Linked DNA regions of Homo sapiens. The protein of the gene in region 1 interacts with the protein of each later gene in a pairwise test. Each region holds a gene or a part of one and is shown on either strand. Other genes may lie near its edges.

The links.
Region 2: the proteins of TNFAIP8L3 (region 1) and CBY1 interact in binary tests that used the Homo sapiens proteins (3 or more experiments, as listed by UniProt).

Annotation. Positions count from the first base shown.
Region 1 is NC_000015.10:51,083,359-51,095,082, forward strand, and holds the start of TNFAIP8L3 (tumor necrosis factor alpha-induced protein 8-like protein 3), read right to left. Parts: upstream 11,549-11,724; 5' UTR 11,330-11,548; coding exon of another isoform or gene 11,238-11,329; coding exon 11,186-11,237; intron 1-11,185. UniProt on the Homo sapiens protein: Acts as a lipid transfer protein. Preferentially captures and shuttles two lipid second messengers, i.e., phosphatidylinositol 4,5- bisphosphate and phosphatidylinositol 3,4,5-trisphosphate and increases their levels in the plasma membrane.
Region 2 is NC_000022.11:38,663,612-38,675,335, forward strand, and holds the end of CBY1 (protein chibby homolog 1), read left to right. Parts: intron 1-1,934; exon of another isoform or gene 1,935-2,074; intron 2,075-4,405; 5' UTR 4,406-4,443; coding exon 4,444-4,521; intron 4,522-7,272; coding exon 7,273-7,378; intron 7,379-7,458; coding exon 7,459-7,577; intron 7,578-9,547; coding exon 9,548-9,625; 3' UTR 9,626-10,239; downstream 10,240-11,724. UniProt on the Homo sapiens protein: Inhibits the Wnt/Wingless pathway by binding to CTNNB1/beta-catenin and inhibiting beta-catenin-mediated transcriptional activation through competition with TCF/LEF transcription factors.

The DNA.
Region 1 (11,724 bases):
GGCTTTTAAATGTCGTTGTATCCCCCTCTAATTTAAAAAGTAATAAAAACACAAAATTAGTATAGGTAAATGAAAATGTGGGAAGTGAATGTCACTCATATCTGGAATAGAGGTCAAGGACAGAGGAAGGGTTGCAGAGGGCATGTGGGTCAGAGCTGCCAAGTGGACCCCCTGCCAGCCAGCGAGCAGCAGCGACGCTGAGTTTCAAGAAAGCCAAGATGGCTGAGTCCACAGGCTCACCCACGGGTGCGTTTAGACTGGGATGCTGCAGTGTCCTTGGCCAGTCTGTAGGCCTCATATTTACAAGCTCTGACCCTGTTCATGGCATGGAGGCCCACAAAGGCTAGGCCAGGTGGGCTCAGAGCAGGAGGTGGTGATGGGGGTGGAGGCACCAGAGAAAGCAAGGGCTGAGGCTAGGGCAGGGGGTGAACAGGGCAGAAGGCTGGATCACCCCAGGCAGGGGGCTGGGCGGAGCCAGTGAGGGGGGCCACAGAGGACTGGAACACAGGGAATTGATGGAAGAGCAAATTTCAAGGGAGAGGACGGAGGGGCCTGGGACAAGCCTGCAGGAGGATGAGCTGGGGAACAGGCACTGCAGCTCACTTGGCTATTGTTTATAAAAGCAAATTACCAGCTGAAAGCTGCATGTACTCACTGAAGACAAATCTGGAAGACTACAAAGAAGACAATTAAAATTACCTATGCACTCATCACAGAGTGGTTTATTTTGCTCGAGCATTAACAAAAAATCTCAAGTGTTTACGTGTGTGACTGTGAGGGGAGATTTCTCCCCCTCTCCATATACAAAGGGGTAGATGTATAGGGGTGTGTGTGTGTGTGTGTGTATGCACATTTATGTATATACGTACATACAGAAAAACAGGGATCACAGATTATTGAGCCTTCTTTGACAATGTTATAATGTGAACATTTCCCTATATCATCAAATGTTCTTCAAATTAACTTTCCTTAACATCTGAATAATATCCCACTGTGTGGAAATGTCATTATGTATTTAATCATTCCATAAATATTTGACTGAATATTCAAGTTGTTTATTTAGGTTTGTTTCTGCCCCCGCCCTGGCCAGTTTTAAATAGCAAAAATCTGCCATTTACTTTGTGATTGGGATAATTTAATCTCTCTGCATCTGTTTCTTCATCTGTAAACTAGGAATGATAATACCTGCTTTATCCATGTCATGGTTTTGCTATGAGAACATGTGTGGAGGAGTTTTCACTGTTCTATGATTTCACAGTCTTTTAACTTCGAGTGACTCGGTGGCTGTCAAGGCCACCAGCAGAGTTGGGAAAAAGTGAGGGAAAGGTGATGGCCTGGAGTGGGTGTGTTGGGGTGTCTCCTAAACAGTGAGGAGGAGGGGTCCGGGGCCTTTAGAAGACAGGATTCTTGCTCAGGAAAGAAGACTGGGCTAGAGTACAACTTTGGGAGCCTTTAGCTTCCCAAAAGCTTACAGCTATTGTTATAAGAATGGATGGTCTTTTCTAATAAAGTATTTTGTCAGAAAAAAGCAAGGCAAGAGCTCCATCTTAAGGGACATAGTTAGGAAAAAGGTATTAATGAGGGATGCAGGAGGAGCAACTGAGAAGGTACAGAGAAACCAGGATTATACACAGAGAAGTTAGAAACAAAGAAAAATAGAGTCACAAAAATTCAGGTTTGATACCTACCAGATACTGCTGTGGGCTCTCTAAAAGTTGACCCTGTATAAATTTAGCTCTGCCTGCGTTGTTTGACTCAGCGAATTATGAAGTTAAATCCTAAAGGTAGAGAGACCAAACATGGATGAACAAACATGCCAGTTTCTTTACAATAAAAAAAAAAATCAATCTAAAGAAAGATAAAATGTAATTGGAGAACTAGTGGCCAATAAACTTTTCTTGAAGCTGGTAGCTATTTAAGCTCAAAGTAAATTAACCTTTGCAATTGTCACTGGGCATCTGTAAAACCTACCAAATGCCTCTCAAGTATTAAAAAAAAATGCATTAATCTTCTGAGGGCTTTGTGGAGGGCTCTTCTGACTAAGAAAGAGAAGTGGGCCTGACCCAAGGGAAGGAGGCCCCTGGGCAACGTGCTAGCGTGGGCCTGTGCTGGTCTGACCTGTGGCAAATGGGCCCAGGATGGAGAAACCTAAGAAAGGAAATGCAGGTGATGGGAGGGAGTGGCAAGAACACAGTAGAAGGTGTCAGAAGGAAAAACAGCAAAAGTCCTTTTGATATCTCAATACCTGGAATAGCTCCGATTCTTTTTTTTTTTTTTTTAATTACATGTTTTGGGGTAAACACAAAGAAGCCATGGGATCTGGCCTCCAGTTCTGGTTCTAACACTGCCTGACAGTGGAACAAAATGTTTTTAGCATCCCAGGTCAACATTTCAGAAACAGGACTCTCATTCTTTTTAAACCCTCCTCTCTCCCTAAATAAAGCTCTCACATCTTTTTCAAATTGCTTTTGGACCACCTTCTTGGAATAGTGCAGTCTTCTCTTAGGGCTCAATCTAATTTTCTTCCTTGTACTGTTTTCACATATTCTACCATGAGCTTGCACTTTTTTGGTCAGAAAATAATGTTACTGACAAGCAATAACTAAGCGACAATGCTTGAAACACAGACCTGAGTCATCCAGCTCTGAATGTCAAGTTCTTTTCACTATGTTGCACTCTCACCTTTTGAATTTTCTCTCCTCAAGTCCTGCTGGTCACCATGTCCTGGGGATTGTATATCTGAAATGATTCTAAATGCTGGGGTGAAAAAAAGGGCTTAGGACCCAGCTTAAGCACACTTTGAAAAAGGGTGTATTTGACTTTGGTATCTCTCTTAACTCTGCTTTTCAAACCTTCTTCTCTCCTCTCTCACCAGGCCCATGTGATCCAGAAGAAGCCCACGGCTGGAGCGTCCTTCTAGGGCCTTCTGCCTAGCAGTGGCTTTGTGCTAACTCTCCCATCTTCCCTCACAGATCGCCCTTTACCATCCCCTGATCTGGATCTGGAGTCAGCCAGTCCTTCCCCATTTTGTTTATAGGCTAATGCAGGGAATGTCTGCAGCTTAAAGCAGGCCTTTGTGGAGGCAGAATGCCCTCACCTAACAGAGGGAGCCTAAGGGTTAGGGTTCTGGGAACCGTGGGAGCTGTGTGGGGGATGCAAGACAGCCTGGTGGCATCCGTGAATCTAATTACGTAGTCTACCTGGTGCAAGAGAAGAGTCTCTGGAGTTAGACTGGCTTCATTTCTACTGACAAGCTGTGCAACCCTGAGCAGGTTACTTAACCTCTCTGTGTTTGGTTTTCTGTTCTATAAATTGGGGCTATTTATAGTACATAGCCCAGAAGGCTGGTATAAGGATCAACTACCATATAAACAATTAACCCAGTCCCGAATACATTGTAAGTGCTTAATTAATATAGGATAAATAAAAAGTAAAACATCATTATACTTTTATGTTCAGTAACAGCCCTCTGGGGCTGACCTTGGGCTGGCAAGGATCATGCCATCTTATTTCTCATCTTGTTTTGCTACAACTTCTTTTTTTTTTTTTGGAGTCAGAGTCTCTCTTTTGCCCAGGCTGGAGTGCAGTGGCACGATCTAGGCTCACTGCAACTTCTGCCTCCCGAGTTCAAGCAATTCTCCTGCCTCAGCCTCCCGAGTAGCTAGGATTGCAGGCATGCACCACCATGCCCAGCTAATTTTTGTATTTTTAGTAGAGATGGCTGGTCTTGAACTTCTGACCTCAGGTGATCCACCCGCCTCAGCCTCCCAAAGTGCTGGGATTACAGGCGTGAGCCACTGCACCCAGCTCACAATTTCTTAAACCCTGGTTTCTCTTATCCTGTAACCCCCAATCCCAGCCTTCCCACCCTCACTTTCTCAGTCTTATCCAAAGGAAACCAAGGAGCCATGACTCAATTGTGGCAGGAAAGAGCTGCCACAGAGGCCTGCTGGGCAGATGGCTCCCCTCACCTACCTCCCGTATTTGACTTCGTATTTGCCCACCTTCCCAGCATAACCCACAGGCTCCAAATCAGGAGTGTGGGATGTGTGTGCTCACTAGCAACAGCTCCTTCCAGAATCTCCTCCCTCATGTGAAACTGGATGCTTCTACTACAAAAATATAAACCAGGAGTCTCCATGAAGCTACGTATGGCTAACATGCTTCCTTTCATGGCCAGAATATTTTCCCAGAAAGCACATTTTACTTCTGAAACACAACCTAGAAGCCAGTGGCTGCCCCTGTGGTTTTTCAATAGTTTAAAGCAATATTGGACACCACCAAGTGTCTCCTTTTTTTCCCAGAGAACTGAGTTACAAAATACTGGTTTCTATTAGGGTGTGTCTAGCACTTTCTGTGCTGCCAAGCCTTCCATTTTTACAGTATGCACACTGGTAGATTTTCCATGAACAGGCTCAAATTTATTCCCAGGCAATGATGCTTAGGAAACCCAATATGAACGTGAAGATTGTTCTAAAGCAGACTCAGAATTTGTCCCATGCCATTGCCTAAAAAGAACATTTCTGATATGTAATAAAATAAAATTTTTCTAGCATACCTTTATATATATATATATATATATATGGGAAGGGGGAGGATATTTGCTCTCCTGATATGATTTTTTGGATTGGATTTTTAGAGGAAACTTGTCTTTTAAATTCTTCTTCTCTATCCTTTTATTTCTATATTTGTATAGAATACAGCCCAAACATCCACCTACATAGGCATTTTACATAAAGAGTTGGAAGCCAAGTGACTGAAAAACAAAACAAAGTTATTTATGTAGTGTCTTTATAGAGATTTACATGTGAATTCGAATGGGAGCCAAGGGTAATGCTGAAGGGAAATGAACCAGTTAGGGAACTATGCTAATAGAAAGTGTGACTAAAATTTAGCTTTGTTGACAAATAAAAAGGCAAGTGCTGTATTTTTTATGAGAAAAATAACATAGGAAATAGAGCTTTCCATGTATATATTCATATACACTCAGTCTTCACCTTAAGAAGCCTTCCCACTAGAATTCCAAATCACATTGCCCTATGCTCCAAATCCTGCACCAATTACTGCTGGTGCTGCCCAGTTTTACAGATCCAGTTTGAGGTGGGTTTTCTCTCCCCAATATGGCTACAAACCTCTGGAAGGCAGGAGCACATCTAAATGCATTTCTGTATACTATCACAGCACCTGGCACCACTCTGAACACAAAACAGCTGATCAGCCAGCATCTACTGGACTGTGTGGATTGAACAGTTGGATTCAGAGCTATGAGGTCTAGAATGGCCACTTTAATCTGGCAACCGAAACTGCCCCAAAGAGGTCTAGACAAAGTTTGCAGTTCAACAACTATCCCCTGAATTCTGCTGGTAGACAGGCCTGCCATCCCTAGTAAACAGTCCTAAAGATCTGTGGAGGCCACCTGTGGTGACCACTGCCATGTGCTGCACGGACTCCCCTTCAGGAACAAAGGACTTCCTCCACAAGTGGCTGGTAGTGCTACCTGCAGAAGCCCTCAGCTGGAGGGAACAGCCTCACTCAAGGTTATTCCTAGTTCCTTGAAATGACTTGCCTTTAATGACTGCTTATTTTGGGGGTGTAAAGGTATAAAGACCTGGCCTCTCACCCCAACTCAGAATAGTTCTGATGAGCCATTCTAGCTCCAGAGTTCCCATGGGCTCAACTGAGGCTGTTGGGTCTACATGGTAGCTCAGCTTCTCTGCCCAGTCCTGCTCCCTTCCCTTCCCCCTTTTTTCCCTTGCCTTCTACAGTTATTAATTCCAAGAGAAGTCCCAAATAAACCTTGTACATGCTGCTGACCTCCATCTCACAGTCTGCTTCCTAGCAAACCAACCCACAACACCATCCATTCATCCATCCATCCATCCGCCCACCCACCCACCTACCTATTCAGCCAGCAACCTGCCACTATGCTTAGGGGACATGGGTGGCATGGGCTGATACAGATGAAAAAGACCCAGTCCTTGTCCTTAGGAAGCTAACTAACAGTCCAGCACAGGAATAACCATAAAGTATGCAATAGGAAGGGCTGGTGTCAAGGGATATGTGGTTGTGGATATGATGCCAGGTAAGGGAGGTGAGGAGTCTTCATGCACTGGCTTAGGCTGTGGTCATCAGTAGACATACCCTGTCTCCTCATCCAATGTCAAGTCCTGGAGGACAGGGTGAACTGTGTCCTTATCTCTCTTTGCATTTCCCATAATTCCTAACACAGAGTCCCAGACAGTACAGAAATCTTAAAACACTAAAACAAAACAAAACACTGAGGGAAAGCCTTGGCATCCTGTCTACTTTATAGGACAGGTTTCTGGCTGCTGGTCTGGCCTTTTAGGGCAAAGTTCTTAGGAGGTTCCTCAAGATGCTCATTCACTTACTATGTCCATAAAATCCCAGGAACATGAAGAAGCACAAGACAAGGTCCTGACTCCGAAAGCAGCTACAGCTTACTCTGTGGATGAGGCAGAGATCCGTGCAAATTTCAACAAACAGGAACAAGAAATGGGAATATGACTAATAACCAAATGGCACATCATTCCCAGGCTGTCCTTGCCCTTAGCAGGCCAGCCCATTTATCTTCAATCTGTCAGTAGACAAAGATTACTAAACAGCCTCTGCAAGGAACCTAGCAATGAGAATCAACAAACCCTCAAACCTCACAGTGCCTCAAAACTAATGCACCTGAGAAACTTAATGTCAAAGGGGAAAAGAATCTTTACCCCAAACACCACTGCTAAGTGCCTGAAGGAAGAGGCAGCGTCTGTGGGGTGGGGGAGCCTGTCTCCTGCATTTCCCTGCCTCCAGAGAACGTTACCCAACACAACATGTCACTGTCTCCTTCAACTCTCCCTCTCCTTTCACTGCTTTTGTACAATCTGTCACCAACTTCTGTTGTTGATTTCTCTGAAATGCCATTTGCACCCTCCCTCTTCCATCTTGCCTTAGTGCCACTACCTTCTCTGATGTTGTGGCCATACCCTGGGAGTTGAGGTGCCAAGTCCAGGCAAATCTTGCATCTCTCCATCTCTGCCAGATGTACATTCTGAAAACTCAGCTTTCATTTGGTCACATCTCTGCTCAAGAATCATGGGGGCTCCAGAAGCCCTGCCAAGACCAACTTACTCCCTGTACTCGCTTAGCTTTATCTCCCAGAACTCCCCAGTATGCGCCCTCTACTCTAGCTGCCTTCCTGTTTATTTGTGTCTTTTCTCAAGCTGTATGACTTCTGGAATGTCTTTCCCTTTCACCTGCCACCTCCTCAACAGGATCCTATTGAATCCTATCCATTCCTTCAGTTGGTTCATGTGGACCAAGCTAAGCATGTAGGGGAGGAGAGGGAGAGGAAGGGCAGAGTTAGGGGCCTGGTGTTTTCCCAGTCCTGTTTTTCTCTTGTGGTTCCCCTACCACATTCTGACTCCATCACATGGAAATGCTTTTCTGCAGCACCGACCCAGGCACAAGGGCACCATCAGCTTGATTGCCCTGGACCATCTATTTGTGGGAGGAAGGAGCTTATCTGCCCTCAGCTGGGTAGGCTGTCTTGATCTTCCAAGCCAGAAAGGGGAAAAAACTGACGTCGCTGTTTACTCTCCTGTTGCTTCTTAGGAAAGACTTAACCACTCCCAAGTGAATACACCAAGCTCTAGGATTTCTGAGAGATGGATGGTGGGTTTGCCAAAGGAAAGAGTGCCAAGTTGGGTCTCTGGAAAGAATCCAGTGTTCCATAAACCTTGCCTCTTCCCTAATCATAGAAAGATCCATAAAATGACAGAAAGGCAGAGGAGAATGCAGGCAGCACAATGACATAGAAGCATCATTCTGTGCTTCCTGAAAAACAGAAAATGCAGATGGAGACAAATTTCATCCTCCGCCCCACCCTCCACTGCAGCGTGTTGCTCTATGAGAGATCTGCTCTGCACGCACAAAGTGGGGGGAACTTTGGAAGAGTCTCTTGAAAGTAGTACAGTAAAAAGTGAGTTGTCTTTGTCCTCTGCCAATAGGTGACTAGAAAGGTGACCATGATGGTTCCTGCCACCTTGAAGGGAAAAGGTTTACCAATGGAATGTGGGAGGTGGAGGGCAGGGGATTGCCTCCTCTTCTTCCACTTGAAGCACCATGAAAGAAGAAACGCTTTCATCTCCACATTAGCAGGTGGACTGAGTAAGGGGTTCTGTTTTTTTTATAACTTTCCCTAGAGGCATAGGAGAAGCTGGTGAAAGCAGCAGGTTGGAATATCCCCATCTTCATGCCTTGTGCTGGAAGATGGATGAAGATGAGAAGAGGTAAACTAAAAAGACCTCCTCAAGCACACACACACACACACACACACACACACACACACACACACGTGCACACACCAGAGATAATGAACAAGAGACTGAAAAGGAGAAAATTCAAAACAAATCTCTTTAGGCAGTTATATTAATGTGATAATAACAGCAGCAACATTAATTGTTTTAAACATGCATTTATATTTTAAAACACTAGAGTTCATTATTTAGCAGTATTCTTACAACAAATAATCCAATCAGGTAATAATCAAAATAACAGCTACCATTTACTAAATGATTACCAGGAACACCTCTCGTGTTATTATACTGAATCTTCATAAACCCCTGTGGTACTACTGTTATCCTCATTTTACAGAGTGGGAAACTGAGGTTGGAGATGTTAAATAACTTGCCCATGAGGTGCAGACTGAAACTCAGGTCTGTTCAATTCCAGAGTCCAGCCTTTTACACTTACAATGTCCATCTTATGGCAGGGCTTTTTCATAAATTCAGGAAATGGAAAGGCATGGATGAGGAAGCAGCCCTTATGTCTCAACTCCCTGTGAGGCAGGTACACACACACATATAAGTACTCCAAGAGGTCCCACTCACTCTGCTGTACTTCTCAGTTACACCCATTCAGCTTTCATAGATACAGGTCCATGGATGAATGTCAAGTTTCTTGTAGAGACAAAGGTCAATCTCTAAGGAGAACACACCTGTTATCTAACCTGTATCTGAATCTGCAACAACGGTTTCCATTTGACAGGATGCAGCCCTAGCAAGGTGGTGAATTAACATCCAGCTTTGAAGCACTGTCATACAGGAGAATACTTTAAGATGGAATATAATGCGTGAGACTGACTGCCATTTAGCAGAATGGCTTGTGACATTAAAATACATGTTCAACGTGTGAGATTCAAGCACACGCAGAAAGAAGAAACAACTGCAGAAAACAGTAAGGTGCAAACAAATAGTGACAGCTCACGAGAGCTGTCTGCCCTGTTCTTCATGGGGCCCATCTGACCTTAGTGATGTTTGCTGTCAGCTACGCAGAGGCCTTCTGACACAAACTGACCGTGAATACAACAGGGATATTAAACACTGGGTCAGGCTGGAGAGAGAAAACAACAGGGTGCAGCAGAATTCTTTTCCTTCCCTTTCACCCAAGTACCAGGGATTCTGAAGATTCTCCTCCCTGCCCCCGGCTTCTCTTCCTTCCTCTTTCTCTAAGCCTCCTTATCCTCCTCCCGCTTCTCCCTCAACCCCTTAACTTCAACCAGAAGAAGAGATAGAGGGTTGGGCAGGGGAGCACAGAGAATGTTGTTCTTAGGATTTTGAGAGAGTTAAGCGTCAGGGTCAATGTCCCCTTCCCGCTTGCGCTCTCGAAATAGATACACACAAAACATCTACTGGAACTTTTAAATGATGAGAGGAGATCCACAAGTCACCTGTGAAGCAAAATCTCAGCACTTTATAGTCACAGAAACATACAGGCATGCAAAGGGCTCATGTTTATGAATTATATCATACCTAGGCAAAGCAGGTGGCACTTGCACACACACAGGAATCCTTAAATACACGCATCTTGGCATTTCCTTTCCGCCAGCCTTGGCCCTTCCCACCCACCCAAAGGTGCGGGCCACAGCCACCCTCTGTGGGGTCTGATGCAGGGTGAAGGGCGTCACTGGGTCCTGGCTACTCCCTGGCTGTGAGAAGTGGGCAAGCCCTTTACTCTATGGGAATCTCTGTAAAATGAAAATAACTGCCTGGCCAGGGGCTGTGAGGATGAAAGGGTATTAATAATATACGCAGGGCACTGTCCTGCTTGGTTCCCGAACCTCTCTTTCCTACACCCACGGCTGGACTGATGGTGCCTTCTGTTACTTGGTCCCCACCGTCAGTACTCTAGTGTGACACTGGGAAGAGTGGGGGCTTAGCCAGGGCCGCGGTCTGTACAGGAGGGTCCCAGCCCGCAGGTCACGGGTCTGCAGGCCCACAGCTAACCTTCAGAGCTGCACAAGCGCCGGGAGCTGTGGGCACGTGAGGAGGGCGAGCGGGTCCTAGGTGCGTAGACCCGTGGGTGGGGGGCGGAGCGGACCGGTGGAGGTGGGCAGAGACCGGCGGCAAGTCGACCCACGGCTGTGGGTGGCTTCCTCCTGTTGCTCAGTATCAGGGAGAGGCGGGGGAGGACATTCATTTTTTTTCTTCCCTAAGTAAGCATCCACCTATTGCTTTAATAACTATCGATTGTGAAAAGCCGGCGGGGCCTCTTAAAGGCGAAGTCGGGAGGCGCGCGCCCCTGCGTCTGTGTTCGGGGACCAGTCCGCGGGGACCTTCTGGACCTTCTCCGCCGGCTGCGCGGCAGCGATGGACCCTGTGCATGGGCTCTCCTAGCAGCCTCGGGAACCGCGGCCGCAAGCTGTGGTTTGACCCCTGCCCCAACCACTCGCGAGGCCTTTTCTGTTCAGAGCCCCCAGTCACGTTCTTGGACCCAGTCACCTGCGCCGCAGCGCAGTCCCGGCGCCCCAGGTTCGAGGACCCGGCCCGCGCTCGGAAAGTTATTTCAAAAGGCAGATGTGTTGCAACCCTCTCTGCAGCAAACTACAGTACGCGGATTCCCGAACCCTTCCCCGCCCCCACCCAGCCCGGGCGACCAGAGCCCGCCGCGGGAGACTGGCAGCAAGGAGAGCCACCCCTAAATGCACCTTCCCTCCCTCCCGCGCGCCCAAGTGCAATGGGGTTGGGGGAAGCCCCAAAGCAAACTCACGACGCGGAGCAATCCCCAGTCTTGGCCTGGAAGGGGTCGGGCTGCTGAGGATCGGCTTCCCGATTTCATGCCCCAGCCTCCCGTCCTCCCCAGCCCCAGCCCACCCGCCTGGGCCGTCGCGGCCCCTAGGTACCTGCGGCGGTCACGGGCTCGCCCTCGCTCTGCTCCCCGGAATCCGAATCCATGCTGCGGGCTGCTGGCTGGGCGTCCACGGCCACCCGCCCGTCTGCGGGGCGCTCGGGCAGCCGCGGCGCACTCAGGGCGGACAGCGGGGCGGCTGGAGCCCGGGCGGCGCGGGCGGCGCGGGCTGGGCGGTGCGCGGCGGCAGCGGCCAGGGGGCGGCTCCGCAGAGGCGAGCGCCGCCGCGCCCCGCTCCCCGCGCCCGCCGGCCGGTGCCTGCGCGCGAGGCGAGCGCAGGGCGGAGGGTGGGGCGCTCCGGGAGACAGCCGGGAGGAGGGAGGGGAGGCGCGAGCGCCGAGGAGCCCGAGCGTCCGGCGCCCGGCGGGCTCCAGGCTGGGGTTAAATATCCCGGGGGCGGCGCCGCGCCTCCCTACCCGCGCCCTGCGTCGGAGCCCTTGGACTTGCCTCGCGCGGCGAGGTTGTGCTGGTCTGCAAGGCCGAGCCCCTTCCCTAGGGTGAGGCCAAGTTTGTAAAATTACTAGGTGAAAAAGA
Region 2 (11,724 bases), on another chromosome or scaffold:
CTTGAACCCGGGAGGTGGAGGTTGCGGTGTGCTGAGATGGCGCCATTGCACTTCAGCCTGGGCCACAAGAGCGAAACTCTGTCTCCAAAAAAAAAAAAAAAAAAGGAAAAAAAAAGAAAGCAAAAAGAGGTCGGGCGCAGTGGCTCATGACTGTAATTCCAGCACTTTAGGAGGCGGAGGTGGGTGGATCACTTGAGGTCAGGAGTTCGAGACCAGCCTGGCCAACATGGCAAAACCCCATCTCTACTAAAAACACAAAAATTAGCTGGGTTTAGTGGCAGGTGTGTGTAATCCCAGCTACTTGGGAGGTTGAGACAGGAGAATCTCTTGAACCTGGGAGGCAGAGGTTGCAGTGAGCCAAGATAGCACCACTGCACTCCAGCCTGGGTGACAGAGCGAGACTGTGTTTCAAAAAAAAAAAAGAAGGAGAAAGCAAAAAGAAAAAAGTGGGAGAAGATATTTTCAGTACTGTACATATATACAGTAGTGAAACTTGTATCCAGCGTATATAAATACCCTTACAAACCCTTACAAAATGAACATGATAGACAGCTCAATTTTAAAAAATGGCAAAAGAGGGCTGGGCGCGGTGGCTCATGCCTATAATCCTAGCACTTTGGGAGGCTGTGGCGGGCAGATTGCTTGAGGTCAGGAGTTCGAGACAAGCCTGGCCAGCATAGCGAAACCCTGTCTCTATTAAAAATACAAAAATTAGCTGGGCATGGTGGTGTGTTCCTGTAATCCCAGTTACTCGGGAGGCTGAGGCAGGAGAATCACTTGAACCTGGGAGGCAGAGGTTGCAGTGAGCTGAGATTGTGCCACTGCACTCCAGCCCGATGACAGAGGGAGACTCCATCTCAAAAAAAAAAAAAAAAAGCAAAATACATGAATAAGCATGCCACAAAAAAATCCATATATGTCCAAGGAGTATGTTAAATGATGCTCAACTTAATTAGTTATTTGGGAAAAGCAAATTAAACAATGCAACACCATTACATACCTGCCAGAATGGAAAAGATGAAAAAGAAAGTGCCAGATATTGACAAGGATCTCTTGCAAACTACAGATAGGAGTCTAAATTGGTACAATGACTTTGGAAAACCATTTGGCAGAATCTGTTAAAGCTAAATATATGAATGCTCTGTGACTCTATAGTTATACCCCTAAGTATGGAACCAGAAAAGTGTACATATGCATGTAGATATACATGCTCAAGTCTTATGTTCTTAGCAGTAGTTTTTTTTTTTCTTGAGACAGGGTCTTGCTCTGTTGCCCAGACTGAAGTGTGCAGTGGTGATCACAGCTCACTGCAGCCTCAAACTCCTGGGCTGAAGCAATCCTTCCACCTCAGCCTCCTGAGTAGCTAGGACTACAAGGGTACACCACCACGCCTGGCTGATTTTTCAATTTTTTGTAGAGATGAGGTCTCATTATGTTGCCTAGGCTGGTCTTGAACTCCTGGCATCAAGTGATCCTCCTGTCTTGGCCTCCCAAAGTGCTAGGATTACTGGCATAAGCCACCATGCCTGGCCTAGCAGCACTATTTTTGGTGGTCAAAAACTGGAAACAGGCCGGGTGTGGTGGTTCATACCTGTAATTCCAGCATTTTGGGAGGCTGAGGCAGGCAGATCACGTGAGCCCAAGAGTTCAAGACCAGACTAGGCAACATGACGAAACTCCCATCTCTATTAAAAATGCAGAAAATTAGCCAGCATGGTGGTGCGTGCCTATAGTCCCAGCTACCCATGAGGCTGAGATGGGAGGATCACCTGAGCCTGGGAGGTTGAGGCTACAGTGAACAGAGATGGTACCACTGCACTCCAACCTGGGGGACCAGAACGAGACCCTGTCTCAAGAAACACAAAACAAAACTGCAAACAGCTCAAATGTCCATCTTCTGTAGACAAGTAAATTTTGCTGTGTTTATACAATAGAATATTATCCAGCAATGCAAATGAACAAACTATAACTACACACAGCTGCATGGATAAATGTCAGAAACATGACGTTGAGTGTGAGAAGCCAGATGCAAACGAGGACTCACTGTGCAATTCTGTGCATGTACAGTGGCCAGGTGAGGCTTATGGAGTGCTGAAATGCTCTGTATCCCAATCTGGAGGGTGGTTTTAAAAAAATGTTTTGAGCCAGTGCGTTGGTTCACACCTGTAATTCCAGCACTTTGGGAGGCCAAGGTGGGCAGGTCACTTGAGGTCAGGAGTTCGAGACCAGCCTGGCCAACATGGTAAAACCCTGTCTCTACTAAAAATACAAAAATTAGCTGGGCATGGTGGCACACACCTGTAATCCCAGCTATTTACAAGGCTGAGGCACAGAGCAGGGCTCTGTCTCAAAAAAAAAAATCATAAATAAAAAATAAAATTTAAAAAATACTTGATTTTAATTTTTTTAGAGATGGGGGTCTCGCTGTGTCACTCAGGCTGGTCTTGAACTCTTGGGCTCAAGCAATCCTCTCACCTTGGCCTCCCAAAGTGCTGGGATTTCAGGTATAAACCACCACGCCTGGCCCTGGAGGGTGGTTATACTTGTGTAGTAAAAACTCATGAAACCTTACACTTATGATTTGTGGTAGACTTTTCTGTATTAATGTTATATATATATATATTTTTTTTTCTTTTTTAACCTTTTTTTGGTAGAGACGGGCCCTGCTAAGTTGCCCAGGCTGGTCTTGAACTCCTGTGCTCAAGTAATCCTCCCTCCCTGGCCTCCCAAAGTGCTAGGATTACAGGTGTGAGCCACTGCTCCCAGCCTAAATAAAAAGTTTGCTTCTCCCCTCCTTTTCTCCCCAAAAACCAGGGTGTTATCAGGAAATCTACTTAACTAGGCCTAGGTGAATTGCAATAGGTTGCATTATGCTAAAAGCAAATGTACAGGTTGGGGGGGTGTTGTTGTCAGCTCCGCCATGTCGTGGACCTGCCCCCTTTTCAGGACACCTCACGTCACCTTCCATAACAGAACAGGTAACGTGACATATGAGGTGCACTGTTGACAAGTGACACTGGTGACAAGTGAGGAGCACTGTTATCAATCTGGAAAGGAAATATAAGCATAGCTTTACTCATTTATTTATTTATTTTTTTAATTTATTTTTGAGACAGAGTCTTGCTCTGTCACCCAGGCTGGAGTGCAGTGGCGCAATCTCGGCTCACTGCAACCTCTGCCTCCTGGGTTCAAGCAATTTTCCTGCCTCAGCCTCCCAACTAGCTGGGATTACAGGCACCCGCCACTATGCCCAGCTAATTTTTTGTATTTTTAGTAGAGACAGGGTTTCACCACGTTGGCCAGGCTGGTCTCAAACTCCTGACCTCTTGATTTGCCCGCCTCGGCCTCCCAAAGTGCTGGGATTACAGATATGAGCCACCGTGCCCAGCCATTTCTTTCTTTATTTTTTTTTTTTTAGAGACAGGGTAATGCTCTTTGACTCAGGCTGGAGTGCAGTGGCATGATCATAGCTCACTGGAGGCTCAGACTCATAGGTTCAAGTGATCCTCCCACCTAAGCCTACTGAATAGCTGAGACTACAGGCACGCACCACCATACCTGGCTAATTTTTGTATTTTTTGTAGAGACAGAGTTTTGCCATGTTGGCCAGGCTGGTCTTAAACTCCTGGGCTCAAGTGATCTGCCTACCTCAGCCTCCTGAGTCACTGAGACTGTAGTTGTGTGCCACCATGCCAGGCTAACTTTTTTTTTTTGAGACATGGTCTCTCATTCTGTAGCCTAGACTGGAGAGCAGCAGTGGACCACAGCTCACTGCAGCCTCAACCTCCCTGGGCTCCAGCGACCCCCCAGCCTCAGCTTCCCAAGTAATTGGGACTACAGGCATGCGCCACTGTGTGCCACCCAAAAAATCTTAGCATACCGCGTAGCACAAAGGGAGCGTTCAGCACATGGGAGCTATTACCAGGCGTCTTAATCCATTTTGTGCTGCTGTTACAGATTACCACAGACTGGGTAATTTATAAAGAAAAGAAGTTTATTTGGCTCACAGTTCTGGAGACTGGGAAGTCCAAGAGCATGGTGCAAGTATCTGGTGAGGGTCATCCTGTGTGAGGCAGAAGGCTCACATGGTGAGCAAGTGCATGAGACAGACAGCATGGCAGCAGAACTCATCCTTTTGCCAGGAGCCCACGCCAGAGAAAACTAACCTACTCCATGACAATGGCATTAATCCATTCATGAGAGCAGAGCTCACATGGCCCAGTCACCCCTTATACTGTTAAACAATGGCAATTCAATTTCAACATGAGTTTTGGTGGGGACATTCAAACCATAGCACCAGGATCGTTAGTAGCCACATGATAAAATGTATGTCTTCAAGATTTGAAGACAATGGCATAAGGTCAGTGATCCAGCTGCTTGTACCCCTGACTTTTTCTGACCCTAGGAGAAGGGAGCACTGGCTTTGCTTTCATCAGGCCAAAGATGCCTTTCTTTGGGAATACGTTCAGTCCGAAGAAGACACCTCCTCGGAAGTCGGCATCTCTCTCCAACCTGCATTCTGTGAGTGTCGGTACTGGGGTCGGCCGGGTGTGCAGCATGAGTTGAGTGCTGAGCGTGTCTCTGAATGGAAAGTGTGGTCCTCCAGAGGCATCAGTGCAGGAGGGCATCCTTTCCGTCCATATCATTGCTATTGCGGAAAACATTTTTGAACTCTTGTTTGGGAATGATCGTCAGAGCTTGTTTATCCAAGAACCTAAGAAGACAATCTCATTATGATATTTGACCCCAAATATCCAAATTTTTTTTTTCTTTTTTGAGATGGAGTCTCACTCCCGTCCCACAGGCTAGGGTGCAGTGGCGCGATCTTGACTCACTGCAACCTCCACCTCCCGGGTTCAAGCGATTCTCCTTCCTCAGCCTCCTGAGTAGCTGGGATTACAACTGCCCGCCACCATGCCCGGCTAATTTTTGTACTTTTAGTAGAGACAGGGTTTCACCATGTTGGCCAGGCTGGTCTCGAACTGCTGATCTCAGGTGATCCACCCGCCTTGGCCTCCCCAAGTGCTAGGATTACAGGTGTGAGCCACTGTGCCCAGCCAGTATCATCCAATTTGACTTCTACTTTATTCTGTGACCTTTTCCTACAGAGCTAGCTATGCAGACTGGCCATGTCTTCACAGAAGGCGAGTGGGGTTGAACAACAAGGCTGTGGGGGCTGAGCATTCACTACAGGTTTCAGGTCTTAAGAGTCTGTTGTCTCCTGTTCCCAGTGAAAATCATGGTGGGGGCAGCCCCACTGTGGCCAGAGCTGGGCATTCTGTGGAGCAGGCCAGGCAGAGGCTTAGGATCTCAGTTTCTGGTGCCCCTAGGCCTGAGGCTCCCTTTCCTCTCTGCCATGTGTGAGAGATGCAGATACACCTGGCGGTCCCTCTAGGACATCCTCTGTCCTAATCCCACACAGCGTAAGAGCAGCAGTGTGCTTACATGACGTCTGTCTCTGACCGTGACTTGAAGTCGGTCCTCCCCTACATTGTTTTCCACATGCTGACAGGTACTTGTAAGCCTTGGTACTTGTAAGGCCTCCACAGCGCTCCATATGGTCACTGGTGGATTTTATTAGTTCCCCGTTATTACAGGATAACCACCCAGATCTTGGGAGCAGCACAAATGACCCTTGGTGGCCTCACTCCAGCTCTCCTTCCTGCCCTTGCCCTCTGCACACCCTGTGCTGCAGCCGCCCAAGCCCCGTGTGAACCTCCTCTGCGCACGCTACTCCTTCTGCCTAGAATGTTTAATTCTAGAATCTAGAATAGATTAATTAAAGAGCTATTGATTGATACCTTTCTATGTGCCAGGCACTCTCCTAAGCACTGGGCATGCAGAAGTGGATGAAGGAGGGGAGAGAAAAACATCAAATCCCTGCTTTCATGGGGCAGATACTTTAACGGAAGGCTACAGAAAATAAGCAAATTTATATCAGATGGTGATATGTGCCAGACAGCAAAACAAAGCATAGGCCTGGGATGGGGTGTGGCTGAGCACTGGGGACTGAGCTTTCATTTTCAACAGGGTGGTCAGGAAGGCCTAACTGAGAAAGGGACATTTGAGCACTTACCTGAAGGTCTCCCTGTGTTGAGCCGCTATTGAGGGCAGAGCTGGTCATACGCATCCCTGGATACCCAGTACCGAGTCCCGAATCGGGGTGGGTGCTCAGTGAGTTGTAGAAATGAATATCTAGGCCAGGCGCAGTGGCTCATGCCTGTAATCCCAGCACTTTAGGAGGCTGAGGTGGGCGCATCACTTGAGGTCAGGAGTTTGAGACCAGCCTGGCCAATGTGGCGAAACTCTGACTCTACTTTAAAAAATACAAAAATTAGGCCGGGCACGGTGGCTCACGTCTATAATCCCAGCACTTTGGGAGGCTGAGGTGGGCGGATCACAAGGTCAGGAGTTCGAGACCAGCCTGGCCAATATGGTGAAACCCTGTCTCTACTAAAAAATACAAAAATTAGCCAGGTGTGGTGGCGTGCGCCTGTAGTCCCAGCTACTCGGGAAGCTGAGGCAGAAGAGTTGCTTGAACCTGGGAGGCAGAGGTTGCAGTGAGCCAAGATTGTGCCACTGCACTCCAGCCTAGGCGAAAGAGTGAGACTCCGTCTCAAAAAAAACCCCAAAAATTAGCCGGGTATGGTGGTGCATGCCTGTAGTCCCAGCTATTCAGAGGCCGAGATGGGAGGATCACTTGAACCCGGGAGGCGGAGGCTGCAGTGAACTGAGATCGCACCACTGTACTCCAGCCTTGGTGAAAGAGCGAAACTCCGTCTCAAAAAAAAAAAAAAAGAAAAGAAAAGAATAGAATATGTAAATTGTACTGTCGCACGTTAAGAAGCAACTCCTCTTCCTCCTAATTGTTAGAATTTTATGTCTTTTCCACAACATATGTAGCTCCATATTAAGCAAATGATAACTTGGGGGACTATTACATTTAAAAAGAATTTTTCACTTGATTAACAGTTTATAGTAGGATTGCTTAAACTATTAAGTGTCAAGTAGGTATAAAATAATTCAATTTATAAATTTCAGTATATATAGCTTTTCTGGAAAACATCTAATGTATAAAACAGTATATTTTTTATCTCACAATTAAACTTTTCCTGTACATCATTTGATTTTATGGCTTTAAAAAAATCATTAAAGGTGCCAAGTAATGATTAGAGAAATGAGTTGTTGGGGTCATATTGTTGGCGGAAGAGGAGCTGGGATGAAGGCGTGTTCCGGGCCTGCTGAAGTTGTCACATAGCATCTCGCCCACAGTTGGATCGATCAACCCGGGAGGTGGAGCTGGGCTTGGAATACGGATCCCCGACTATGAACCTGGCAGGGCAAAGCCTGAAGTTTGAAAATGGCCAGTGGATAGCAGGTGAGCTGCACTTCCTGCCATTTTGTCAAACAAGATTGTAGGAGGAAATCCCCCTTTAACTGGTTCTGTCCTTCCTCCAGAGACAGGGGTTAGTGGCGGTGTGGACCGGAGGGAGGTTCAGCGCCTTCGCAGGCGGAACCAGCAGTTGGAGGAAGAGAACAATCTCTTGCGGCTGAAAGTGGACATCTTATTAGACATGGTGAGGCAGGTGATGGGGAAGAGAGGCCTAGCTTCTCCTTTTGGGGAGGCTCCACCTCGAGTCACTTAATCCAACAGATATCTCCTCAATGCCAGTTTGGCCAGGTACGTTGCTTTGCATCCAAAGCCACACGCAAGGAACAAGACACAGTTCCTGCCCTCACAGTGTAGAGGCAGGTGGACCGACCGTAAGCATAATTACATAAGGACCCAGTTGGAGTCTGCACAGGATCTGCACAGCACACGAGGGAGAAGTTATTTCTGTCAAGTCGGGAGAGCTTCCCAGAGGAAGGGATATCTGAGCTGAATGTGGAAGGATAATGGCAGGAATAGAGGTTAGATGAAGGCATTCCAGGAAGAGGGGTAGAGCCGGCTCATGGCTTGGAAGTGTCTCATACCAAGTAGGCATTAATCAGTGCCCAGTACAGACCAGCTGAGGGGCTCACACTGCATTAGTGTTGGTTTCTTGTGGCTGTTAAAAATCCAGCAACCCACTGGGCCTAGAGGAGCCTGTGAAGGTTCAGAGGCAGGAGAGCATACACTGTAGTGGTTAAGAGCACACACTCCAGAGCAAAATGGCCTGGGTTCCTCACCCAGCTCTGCTACTGACTAACTGCTCTGTAACTTAATTTCTTCAGCAATAAATGGCATAATAGCTAATTGTGGTGGTGCACCCCTGTAGTCCCAGCTACTTGGGAGGCTAAGACAGGAGGATGGCTTAACCTCAGGAGTTTGAGAGCAGCCTTGGCTGCAAAGTAAGATGCCATCTTTTTTTTTTTTTTAAAAAAGGACTAGGCTGGGCATGATGGCTCATGCCTGTAATCTTAGCATTTTGGGAGGCCAAGGTGGACGGGTCACAAGGTCAGGAGTTCGAGACCAGCCTGACCAACATGGTGAAACCTTGTCTCTACTAAAAATACAAAAATTAGCTGGGTGTGATGGCATGCGCCTATAATCCCAGCTACTCAGGAGGCTGAGGCAGGAGAATTGCTTGAACCCGGGAGGTGGAGGTTGCAGTGGGCTGAGATCGCGCCACTGTACTCTAGCCTGGGCAACAGAGTGAGACCCCATCTTGGAAAAAAAAAAAAGAAAAAGACTGACATTTTAGGCTGGATGTTTTTTTATTTTTATTTTTATTTATTTATTTATTTTAGACAGAGTCTCGCTCTGTAGCCTGGGCTGGAGTACAGTGGCATGATCTCCACCCACTGCCCCACTGCAACCTCTGCCTCCCGGGTTCAAGTGATTCTCCTGCATCAGCCTCCTGATTAGCACCCGCCACCACGCTTGGCTAATTTTTGCATTTTTAGTAGAGATGGGGTTTCACCATGTTGGCCAGGCTGGTCTCCAACGCCTGACCTCAAGTGATCTCCCTGTCTTGGCCTCCCAAAGTGCTGAGATTACAGGCATGAGCCACCACGCCCGGCCTGGATGTTTTTTTTTAAAAATGAGCATAATCGTAGTATCTACCTCATAGTGAGTTAGTACAAGAAAAGCACCCAGCCTGGCCGACAGAGCGAGACCGTGTCTCAGAAAACAAACAAACCAAAAAACAAAAACAAAAAAACCCTAAGGAGGAAAGTGGCATTCTATTTCTAGCATTTTTTCCCCTCATCCCCATTATGGGAGCTACAGCTTAGAATCAATTTCAGCTCTAATCCCTTAGCCTTACAATCACCAGTATCTGCCTTTGACGTCCTCTGAGACCTGCTCTCCTTCGTGCAGGGAGTGCCATGCCCTCGTGGGTGACAGCGTGCTGACAGAGTGGACTGTGAATATTCTTCAAGTACTTGTGGTCCTGGGTCATCAGGGGTTGCATTCTACCCAGTTACAGAGGGTTTCCCATCGAGGAAGCCAGCAGCATCAGAGAAGTGGCAGGGGGCCTTTCCTCCGTGTGTAGGGCCGGCCTTGCTAACCCGAAACATTTCCTAGAAATGTGCTGCTTGCTAACAGCCGCTGCTTCACTTTCAGCTTTCAGAGTCCACTGCTGAATCCCACTTAATGGAGAAGGAACTGGATGAACTGAGGATCAGCCGGAAGAGAAAATGAAGACCCCAGAGACATTTATTGGGGAGTAGGATGTGGCTGAGTGCTTTTTTTTTGGCCAGACTAGCGGATTCAGTCCTGGAAGAGAGTATCATATAATGAGACCCACAGGCACTGGCACCCTTGGGTTGGCAATAGAAGGTGACATGGAATGGAGAAAACCAAGATTCCAGATGGGGATAGTAACTAGAAGGTGCTTCAGATGCACTGCCTGCGGGTGCCAGTCTGAAAACCAGACCGCACAGAGGCCTGGGGCTGCTGATGAGCTTTTTGGTGCTCTCCACACACAAGCTCGCAAACACACATGTCCCAGAATAGCTCTGTTGGGTTGTGTTGGGAGAAGCGGCTGGAGTTCATTCTCTCACCCCCTTATGTTGGTGTTTGGCGTGTGACAGCAGTTCTACAGAGCTCTGTGTTGGGGTCATGGATGAGCGGCTCTCTTGGCTCTTAAAGGCAGGCCTCTCTCTTCTTGCCTTTAAAGAATCCTCCTTCCTCACACCTGGCCTCCTCTGGCTTCAGCTTCTCAGCAGCAAGCACCAGCCTTCCACAACAACACTATATTTTTATGCTACTTTCCTGTTTGCACTACTACTTTTTTATTAAACGATGTTAAATAATCTCTCTGTGACCAAAGTGACTAAAAAGAGAACCATGAGTTTCTCAAGAAGTAAATGGAGCTGGCCAGGCATGGTGGCTCACACCTGTAATCCCAGCACTTTGGGAGGCTGAGGTGGGCAGATCACCTGAGGTCAGGAGTTCGAGACCAGCCTGGCCAATAGAGTGAAACCTCGTCTCTACTAAAAATACAAAAATTAGCCAGGCGTGGTGGTGGGCACCTGTAGTCCCAGCTACTTGAGAGGCTGAGACAGGAGAATCGCTTGAACCCAGGAGGCAGAAGTTGCAGTGAGCCGAGATCATACCATTGTACTCCAGCCTGGGCGACAAGAGCGAGACTCCGTCTCCAAAAAAAAAGAATTAAATGGAGCCTGGCCAGGTGTGGTGGCACACACCTGTAATCCTAGCACTAGCACTTTGGGAGGCTGAGGCGGGCTGATTGCTTTAGCTCAGGAGTTCAAGACCAGCCTGGCAATAGCGAAACAAAATACAAAAAAAAAAAAAATTAGCTGGGCGTGGTGGTGCACACCTGTAGTCCCAGTCTCTCAGGAGGCTGAGATGGGAGGATCACTTTGAGCCCAGGGAGGTTGAGGCTGCAGTGAGCTGTGATTGCTCCACTGCACCCCAGTCTGGGTGACAGAGTAAGACCCTGTCTCAAAAAAAAAAAAAAAAAAAAAGTAACTGGAGCCTGGAGTCTAAGCCTCTGTTGTTCCATCAAAAGACAGAATTGGCCGGACGTGGTGGTTCACGCCTGTAATCCCAGCACGTTGGGAGGCTGAGGTGGGTGGATCGTCTGAGGTCAGGAGTTTGAGACCAGCCTGGCCAACATGGCAAAACCCCGTCTCTACTAAAAATACAAAAGAAAATTAGCTGGGTGTGGTAACACATGCCTGTAGTCCCAGCTACTTGGGAGGCTGAGGCAGGAGAATCACTTGAACCCGGGAGGCGGCCACTGCACTCCAGCCTGGGCGACAGAGCAAGACTCTGTCTCAAAAAAAAAAAAAAAAAAAAAAAGAATGTTTAGTGTGTGGGGAACTGTCACTCTTGTAGGAGAGCATTCCAGCTTTCCTGGGCATTGGCAGAGGCTGATGCCAAACAGAAACAGTCTCTCTGCTCAAAATTCGCCTGCCCTCCTGCTTCATGGTGTTGGGACTGGCCAGGACCTGGCAGGAACCTAATGGTTGGTGTGAGAATTTGTGCCGTAGGCAGTATGAGCTGGACTTTTCTGGCAAGAGGAGGGAATCCAGCTCCTGAAGTCAAGCGGGAAGGAACTGAGGGGGTGGAGGTGGGGGCATGGTGCCCAGGGCTTTAGACTAGGGACAGGCTACCATGGTTAGCCACTTCTGAATGCCCGGTACATGCCTGGCACCAGGCTCCCTTTGCTCTCACTGTCTCATTTCCCCTTCAGCTCAGCCCTGTGTAGCAGGGGCTATCGGCACATCCATCTGCAGAGAAGGAAACTCTGGGAGGTTCAGACACTGATCTAG